Linked DNA regions of Homo sapiens. The protein of the gene in region 1 interacts with the protein of each later gene in a biochemical or structural test. Each region holds a gene or a part of one and is shown on either strand. Other genes may lie near its edges.

What was found. The genes of interacting proteins can lie anywhere in the genome.
Region 2: of the proteins of RAB3IL1 (region 1) and MAP3K1, one has a biochemical effect on the other in vitro, tested with the Homo sapiens proteins (one large-scale study listed by BioGRID).

What each region holds. Positions count from the first base shown.
Region 1 is NC_000011.10:61,900,567-61,904,214, forward strand, and holds part of RAB3IL1 (guanine nucleotide exchange factor for Rab-3A), read right to left. Parts: intron 1,976-3,648; coding exon 1,876-1,975; intron 1-1,875. UniProt on the Homo sapiens protein: Guanine nucleotide exchange factor (GEF) which may activate RAB3A, a GTPase that regulates synaptic vesicle exocytosis. Promotes the exchange of GDP to GTP, converting inactive GDP-bound Rab proteins into their active GTP-bound form.
Region 2 is NC_000005.10:56,888,488-56,892,135, forward strand, and holds part of MAP3K1 (mitogen-activated protein kinase kinase kinase 1), read left to right. Parts: intron 1-3,648. UniProt on the Homo sapiens protein: Component of a protein kinase signal transduction cascade. Activates the ERK and JNK kinase pathways by phosphorylation of MAP2K1 and MAP2K4. May phosphorylate the MAPK8/JNK1 kinase.

The sequences.
Region 1 (3,648 bases):
TGGGGCAGGGCAGAGCTCAGGACAGGAGCAGGGACAGTGGATGCCCACAGAGGCTCATGAGCAGGGAGTAGCAGGGAGGGGGCTTTCCCTCTCCAGGGAGTGTGCTAGGGAGAAAACACTTCTCCCTGTGGACCCCACATGTCTTGGTCTTTCAGGGCAGGGACCACATCCTAAAACTTCAGACCCTCCTCACCTCATCTCCCACCCCCAGCTTCATCCAGTGCAGCAGGACACCCAGGCCAGGGACTTAAAGTGCTAGAGGTGACATTGTTGAGCACGGGAACATCTTTTGTGGGGCCTGCTGTTGAGCCATGGTTGGGCCTGGAAAGCGGTGATGGAGATAAGTGGCCACTGAACAAGGCTCAGTGGGCACAAATCCACAGGGTAGGGGCTGCAGTGGACTCAGAGCCAGGATCCCAGGTCTCGGTGTGTGGCCCTGAACACACCCCTTTCCTCTGCCAAGGCTCAGCCTCCCTTTTGGTAAATGGGTGCTCAGCACACCGCTGGGAGGACTCACGCTCGGATGCCTTGTGGAGTTCATCAAGGACAGTATAGTCTGCTGCCAGCAAAGGGACCATTTGTCCCCTTTAGACCTGCTCCCCTGCGAGGAGCCTCTAGCAGGCCTGAGATGGTTCCTCAAGCTGTGTCACTGGAAACGTGTTTCCAAACATGTTCTCTTGTTCCCCTCAATCCTCTTAAGAGTCAACAGAGGGACAGAGGAAGAGGAATCCCTGTCCTCAATCCCCAGCTTGGTGAGAACCCCTGTCCTGGTCTGGGTCACTCGGCAGGGGAGGGTGGGAGCTGGGATTCCTAGAGGCCCCTTGGCACTCACGGCCGACTTAAGGCTGGTGCACCAGACGCACCGCTGAACCTTTTCCAAAGCTTCGGCCAGCACCTGAGTCTGGGCGTCAGGAGCCCCGCACTCTAACTGGAACTCTAGCATCACTCCTGGATTAGGTGACATTGAATGACAGAGGGGGGCGATGTCATCCCATGACATTTCATACATAAGGCTGCATCTCAGCCGACTGGAGAGTGGCCCTCCTGATGGCTCTGAAGTCAGCTGCCCTGTGCAACAAGGCCCTGTGGCAGGGGACTGCGGGTGTCCTCTAGAAGCTGAGGGTGTCCCCTTGCCAGCAGCCAGCAAGAAAATAGGGGCCTCAGTCCTTCAAACACAAGGAACTGAATGCTGCCAACAATGTGAGTTTTGAGGAGGACCCTGACTTCCAGAAAGGAACACAGTCTGCTGACAGCTTACTGCGACCTTGCAAGTCCCTGAGCAGAGAATCCAGTAAGTAAGTAGTGCTTAGACTCCAACATGGGGAACTGCGCTATTTTAAGCTACCAGGTTGATAGTAATTTGTTACACCGTAATAGCAAACCACTGCCCTTGGCTTGGCTGTGTGGCCCGAGTCAGTCTCTGCGCCTCTCTGAGCCTGTACCCTGCTCTGTAAATCAAGATGTAAGGCTGGGCGTGGTGGCTCACACCTATAATCCCAGCACTTTGGGAGGCCGAGGCAGGCAGATCACTTAAGGCCAGGAGTTCGAGTTCAGCCTGGCCAACGTGGTGAAACCCCATCTCTACTAAAAATACAAAATTAGCTGGGCGTGGTGGCACATGCCTGTAATCCCAGCTACTTGGGAAGCTGAGGCAGGAGAATTGCTAATGTCTGCCTGGGAGGCAGACATTGCAGTGAACTGAGATTGTGCCACTGCACTCCAGCCTGGGTGACAAAGACTCTGTCTCAAAAAATAAATAAATAAAATAAGTAAATCAAGGTGTAGTGCTATTCATACTCCCAGGCCCAGGGCCCAGTGTCCCAGCACCCAGGTGGCCCCAAAGGAGTCAAGTAACGCTTGCAAAGGCTGACTCACCCTGGCCCGGGAAGATGGCGAGATGTAGTAATGGCTTTTGGAGTCCCCGAGCCGGATTCGGTGGCGGCAGGTGCGGGTCAGCCCGCTCAGGGCACATGTGCTAGGGGAAAGCAAAATGGGTCACGGGGGCTGGCTGGGGCTTGCCCCTCTCCCTCACCCCTGCATACAGGGAAGATGCAGCAGCTGAGAGGATGCATGGGGAGGGGCAGGCCTCCCTTCCCCCACCCGGCTTCCAAAGGAACCCAGAGCCAGGCAGAGAAGGGAGCTGGCCCCAGCCATCCCTGGGACAGACCTCGAACTAAGCTGAGCTGTACCCCTAGAACCCTTGTTTTGCCCCTACTGGGCAAGAGAGCTTGGTTAATCTCATGCCAGGTGTACAAAGTCCCACCCTCTGCAGGCTCTGCATATGCCTCTCCCTCTACTTCTGGGGACTCAGACCAGGCACTCCTCCCCCAACTAGGCCAGAGTTGAGGTCTGGCTGCCTCCCGCTTCCCAACATCCAGCAGCTCCCCTGCTTCATCCATGCAGGCCTTCTGACCCCACTAACCCCCATGGTTCTCAGCCGCATGCCAACCAACCCCGTCTAAGAGCCTTCTCCCATGCCCTCTTCTCTCCTCCCCCCAGTCCTGCATGACGTCGCTCAGCATCTTCAGCCACCCACATGAAGGGTCTCCACAGGCCCTGAGCAACCCCCATCTGGGCCCCACTCCCCAAACCTGCTCTTCACTGGCCATCATCTGCTCGGCTCTCTCCTCCTCACCCTCTGCTTGGTCACCAAGTCCCCAGGCCAGGGCACAGCAGCAGTACTTTTGGCCTGCATCCCCTTGGCTCCTTCTGGCCAGCTCTCTGCCTCATCGCTCTCTTTCTTCTCCACATCAGAGCCAGGGCTCCTCCAAAAACCCACATCTAACCCATCATCTTTCTCTCTTGCTTTCCTAATTCCCAAGAAATGGGGAGAATCCCAAATAAATGAAGGTTTAAAAAGCTCCTTGGCTGCGGACTTATCAGAGCATTTGTTGCCTCCTGGTTCACTGGGACTCTCTGATGGACCAGAGAGCCTCTTTTCAGGTGGCAGCTATTGATGACTTTTTTTTTTTTTTGAGACAGGGTCTCACTCTGTCACCCAGACTGGAGTGCAGTGGTGCAATCTCAGCTCACCACAACCTCCGTCTCCCAGGCTCAAGCAATTCTCCTGACTCAGCCTCCCGAGCAGCTGAGATTACAGGCGTGTGCCACCACACCCGGCTAACTTTTATATCTTTAGTAGAGATGGGGTTTTCTCCATGTTGGCCAGGTTGGTCTCAAACTCCTGACCTCAAGTGATCCACCCGCCTCAACCTCCCAGAGTGCTGGGATTACAGGTGTGAGCCACTGCACCCGGCCTATTGATGACTTTTGCCGCACTGGCTGGTGGGTTAAAGCCCAAACCTGTGAAGGCTCTTTATACTCTGGCCCCAACAGCCTCTGCAGCCTCCACCCCAATTCCCTGTCCCCCCACTGCTTAGCCAGATGCCCCAGTGGTGCTTCCGTTAATACTCCAGCTTCTCACACCTTTGCACATTCCGTTCCCTCTGCCTGAAATGCCCTTCCCTGCTTGGCAAACTTCTATTCATCCTTCAAAACCTGGCTCAAATGCTCCCTCTCCGTGATGAGCCTCCCACCAGGGCACCAGCCATCCCCAGCCAGGCTCTTGGCTGCCAAGGTGAAATCCTCCCCAATTTCTGCCCCTTGCTCCACCCTGGCTATTTTGTTCTGCTGCTCCCCTGCTCAATG
Region 2 (3,648 bases), on another chromosome or scaffold:
GAGAGGATTTGATATACAAGTTTTTTACTTTAAGATGGTGCAAAAGCAATACAAATTTGGTAAAAACCATACTTTGAATTTTGATTTTTGTCTGAGCTAGCAATATGTGCTATGATACACTGGTGATGCTAGGCAGTGGCAGCGAGTCACAGCTCCCAGTCAGCCACACAATCACGAGAGTGAACAACCAATACTCTATAGTGGACTGTGTTGTCAGATGATTTTGCGGAACAGTAGGCTAATGTAGGTATTATAAGCACATTCAAGGTAGGCCAGACTAAGCTATAATGTTTGGCAGGTTAGGTGTATTAACTGCATTTTCAACTTAAAAAAATATCATCAACTTAAAAGGGGTTTATCACGACATAACCTCAGCGTAAGTTGAAGAGCATCTGTGTATGTGTGTATTTCCAGGAGTTGATATTGTCAATGGTGTTGTCAATGTTAGTGACATACATAGTCACTTCTTGTTATTTGAGGTAGTTATGCTCTGTTAAGTTGCTACAAATATTGAATTAGCAAATACTAAAACACTGCTTCTAGAAGAAATATGTAGTGTGTTTATATGTATATGTATGTGTGTATATATATCCATCCATCACTTTAAAAACGTGAAATTCATGCATTTTACATAATTCAAAAATCTTAAAATCTAATTTACCATTTTCTTTTGTTCGTTTGTTTTTTGTTTTTGTTTTTGAGACAGAGTCTCGCTGCAGTGCCCAGGCTGGAGTGCAGTGGCACGATCTCAGCTCACTATAGCCTCCGCTTCCCAGGTTCAGGCAGTTCTCCTGCCTCAGCCTCCCAGGTAGCTGAGACTACAGGCACGCGCCACCATGCCCAGCTAATTTTTGTATTTTTAGTAGAGATGGAGTTTCACCATATTGGCCAGGCTGGTCTCGAACTCCTGACCTCAAGCCCACCTCAGCCTCCCAAAGTACTGGGATTACAGGCGTGAGCCACCACTCCTGGCCTAATTTACTATTTTGTATATTTTAAAAATTCACACCCAAGTCAGTTCAGTCCTGTCTGCCTTTCCTACTTTTTTATAACTCACAAATCCATTCTCTCCTTTTCCACCATAGAATAAGTAATGGTTGATATTCTTAGCTTTTCAGTAGATGTGATGGTTGAAATCATGGGCTTTGGAGTCACACTGACCTAGTTTTAAACCCTGGCTCTACCCCTTAATGGCCATGTAATCATAGGAAAATTATTTTTTGTGTCTACCCTCCATTTTCTCACATGTAAAATTGGTGCAAGAACCCCATGAAGCATGTACTTCGTGGGATTACTATGAAGATAAACAAAATTATACCTAGGCCTTAGTCAAGCACTCAGCCCACACAGTCAGCTCCACCTGCCATAACCTCCTCCAGTGCTCCCCACACTTATTATATAACCTCCTCAGTCACCTCTCTGACAATACCTGTTTTGTATTATCACCTCATTTCCTCTATTCTTTCAGACGTCCCATGTCCGTTCTCTACGTGGTTCAAATTCTTATTCTCTTTAAGGCCCCCATTTTGTGCTTCTCCTGCTTGGGCACCCCCTTTTTACTCATTCCAGATTCTCATAGCATTTTAGTACATACTTGTTTCTGACACTTTGTTTCTTGTTTGCTAGTTATGTTCCTATCTTGCTGCCTCTTTCAAACTAATTCTCCTTGAGGTCCATTCATGTCTGATTCATTTTCTTCTTCCCAGAGTCTTATACAGAAGTTGCTCAATAAATACTCATGGCTAGGATCAATTTGAAAGTTTGATGTTATTTTAAGAGTTTTGATGAGACCCTGGAAACAATTGTAAATAATTTTCAAATTGGCACAGTTCATATTTTAACAGATTTCATTGCATTCTCCTTCCTAGGTAGAGTTTAAAGAGAATTGTACTGTAACATTTTCAGTTTCCTTAATTTGGAGTAAATACTTTGAGGTTTTTGGAAGCACCCCAAAGCTTTCTCAAACACTTCCATACCCTGTTTATGGTAGTATAAATTGCCATAGCACGTTTTTTTAGAGAGTGATTTGGCAATATCTGCCAGAATTTTTAATGCACTTATTCTTTGACTCAGCTATGCCCATTGTTAGGAATTTACTCAAGATTACCTCTAGAAGTACCAAGTGCCAAGTTCAGGATTATTCACTCTACTCAAGAAAGTAATTAAATTATCCACACTATACAGAAATTAAACGAGTATGAAGCTGTTGGTGTTGATTTACAAAGTGCTACAAGATACATTAATAAGTGAAAAGAGCAAGGTATATAAAGTGATCCTGGCCAAGCACAGTGGCTCATGCCTGTAATCCCAGCACTTTGGGAGGCTGAGGCAAGAACAAAACTTGAACCCAGGAGTTGGAGAGCAGCCTGGGCATAGCGAGACCCCATCTCTACCAAAAAAAAAAAAAAATTAGCTGGGCATAGTGAGACGCACCTGTGCTCCAGGGTACTCAGGAGGTTGAGGTGGGAGGATCGCTTGAGCCCAGGAGGTCAAAGCTGCAGTGAGCCATGTTCATATCACTGCACTTCAGCCTGGGTGACAGTGAGAGCGAGACCCTGTCTCTAAATTAAGTTTTCTCTTTTGTAGACATTTTAGAAAATCTTAAGTCTGTGAATATATTGGCCTTTTTTCCTCCACAAAACACACACAGACACACACACACCCCCCCCCCCCACACACACACACACAAATCATCAGTAAGTTACATTTGGGGAAAAGAAGGAAGAGGGACTTTTTTTGTTTTGTATTTTTCCTTTTTGTGGTGTGTAAGATGTGTATATATCAGCTGAGTATATCATGATACAGGATCACAGACCTTAGAGGATTTTTCTTTATATTACTTTGCATTTTTTAACCCAAAGCATTTATGAAATTACTGGGGTAGGGAAAAGAGAGTTTTCTTGTGATTAGGAGTGGATAGGTGAGTTTAAAGTATTCAGACTTGATATTAGCCCTTTGTCAGATGAGTAGATTGCAAAAATTTTCTCCCATTCTGTAGGTTGCCTGTTCACTCTGATGGTAGTTTCTTTTGCTCTGCAGAAGCGCTTTAGTTTAATTAGATCCCATTTGTCAATTTTGGCTTTTGTTGCCATTGCTTTTGGTGTTTTAGACATGAAGTCCTTGCCCATGCCTATGTCCTGAATGGTATTGCCTAGGTTTTCTTCTAGGGTTTTTATGGTTTTAGGTCTAACATTTAAGTCTTTAATCCATCTTGAATTTTTTTATAAGGTGTAAGGAAGGGATCCAGTTTCAGCTTTCTACATATGGCTAGCCAGTTTTCCCAGAACCATTTCTTAAATAGGGAATCATTTCCCCATTTCTTGTTTTTGTCAGGTTTGTCAAAGATCAGATGGTTGTAGATGTGTGGGATTATTTCTGAGGGCCCTATTCTGTTCCATTGGTCTATATCTCTGTTTTGGCACCAGTACCATGCTGTTTTGGTTACTGTAGCCTTGTAGTATAGTTTGAAGTCAGGTAGCATGATGCCTCCAGCTTTGTTCTTTTGGCTTAGGATTGACTTGGCAATGTGGGCTCTTTTTTGGTTCCATATGAACTTAAGTAGTTTTTTCCAATTCTGTGAAGAAAGTCATTGGTAGCTTGATGGGGACGGCATTGAATCTATGAATTACCTTGGGCAGTATGGCCATT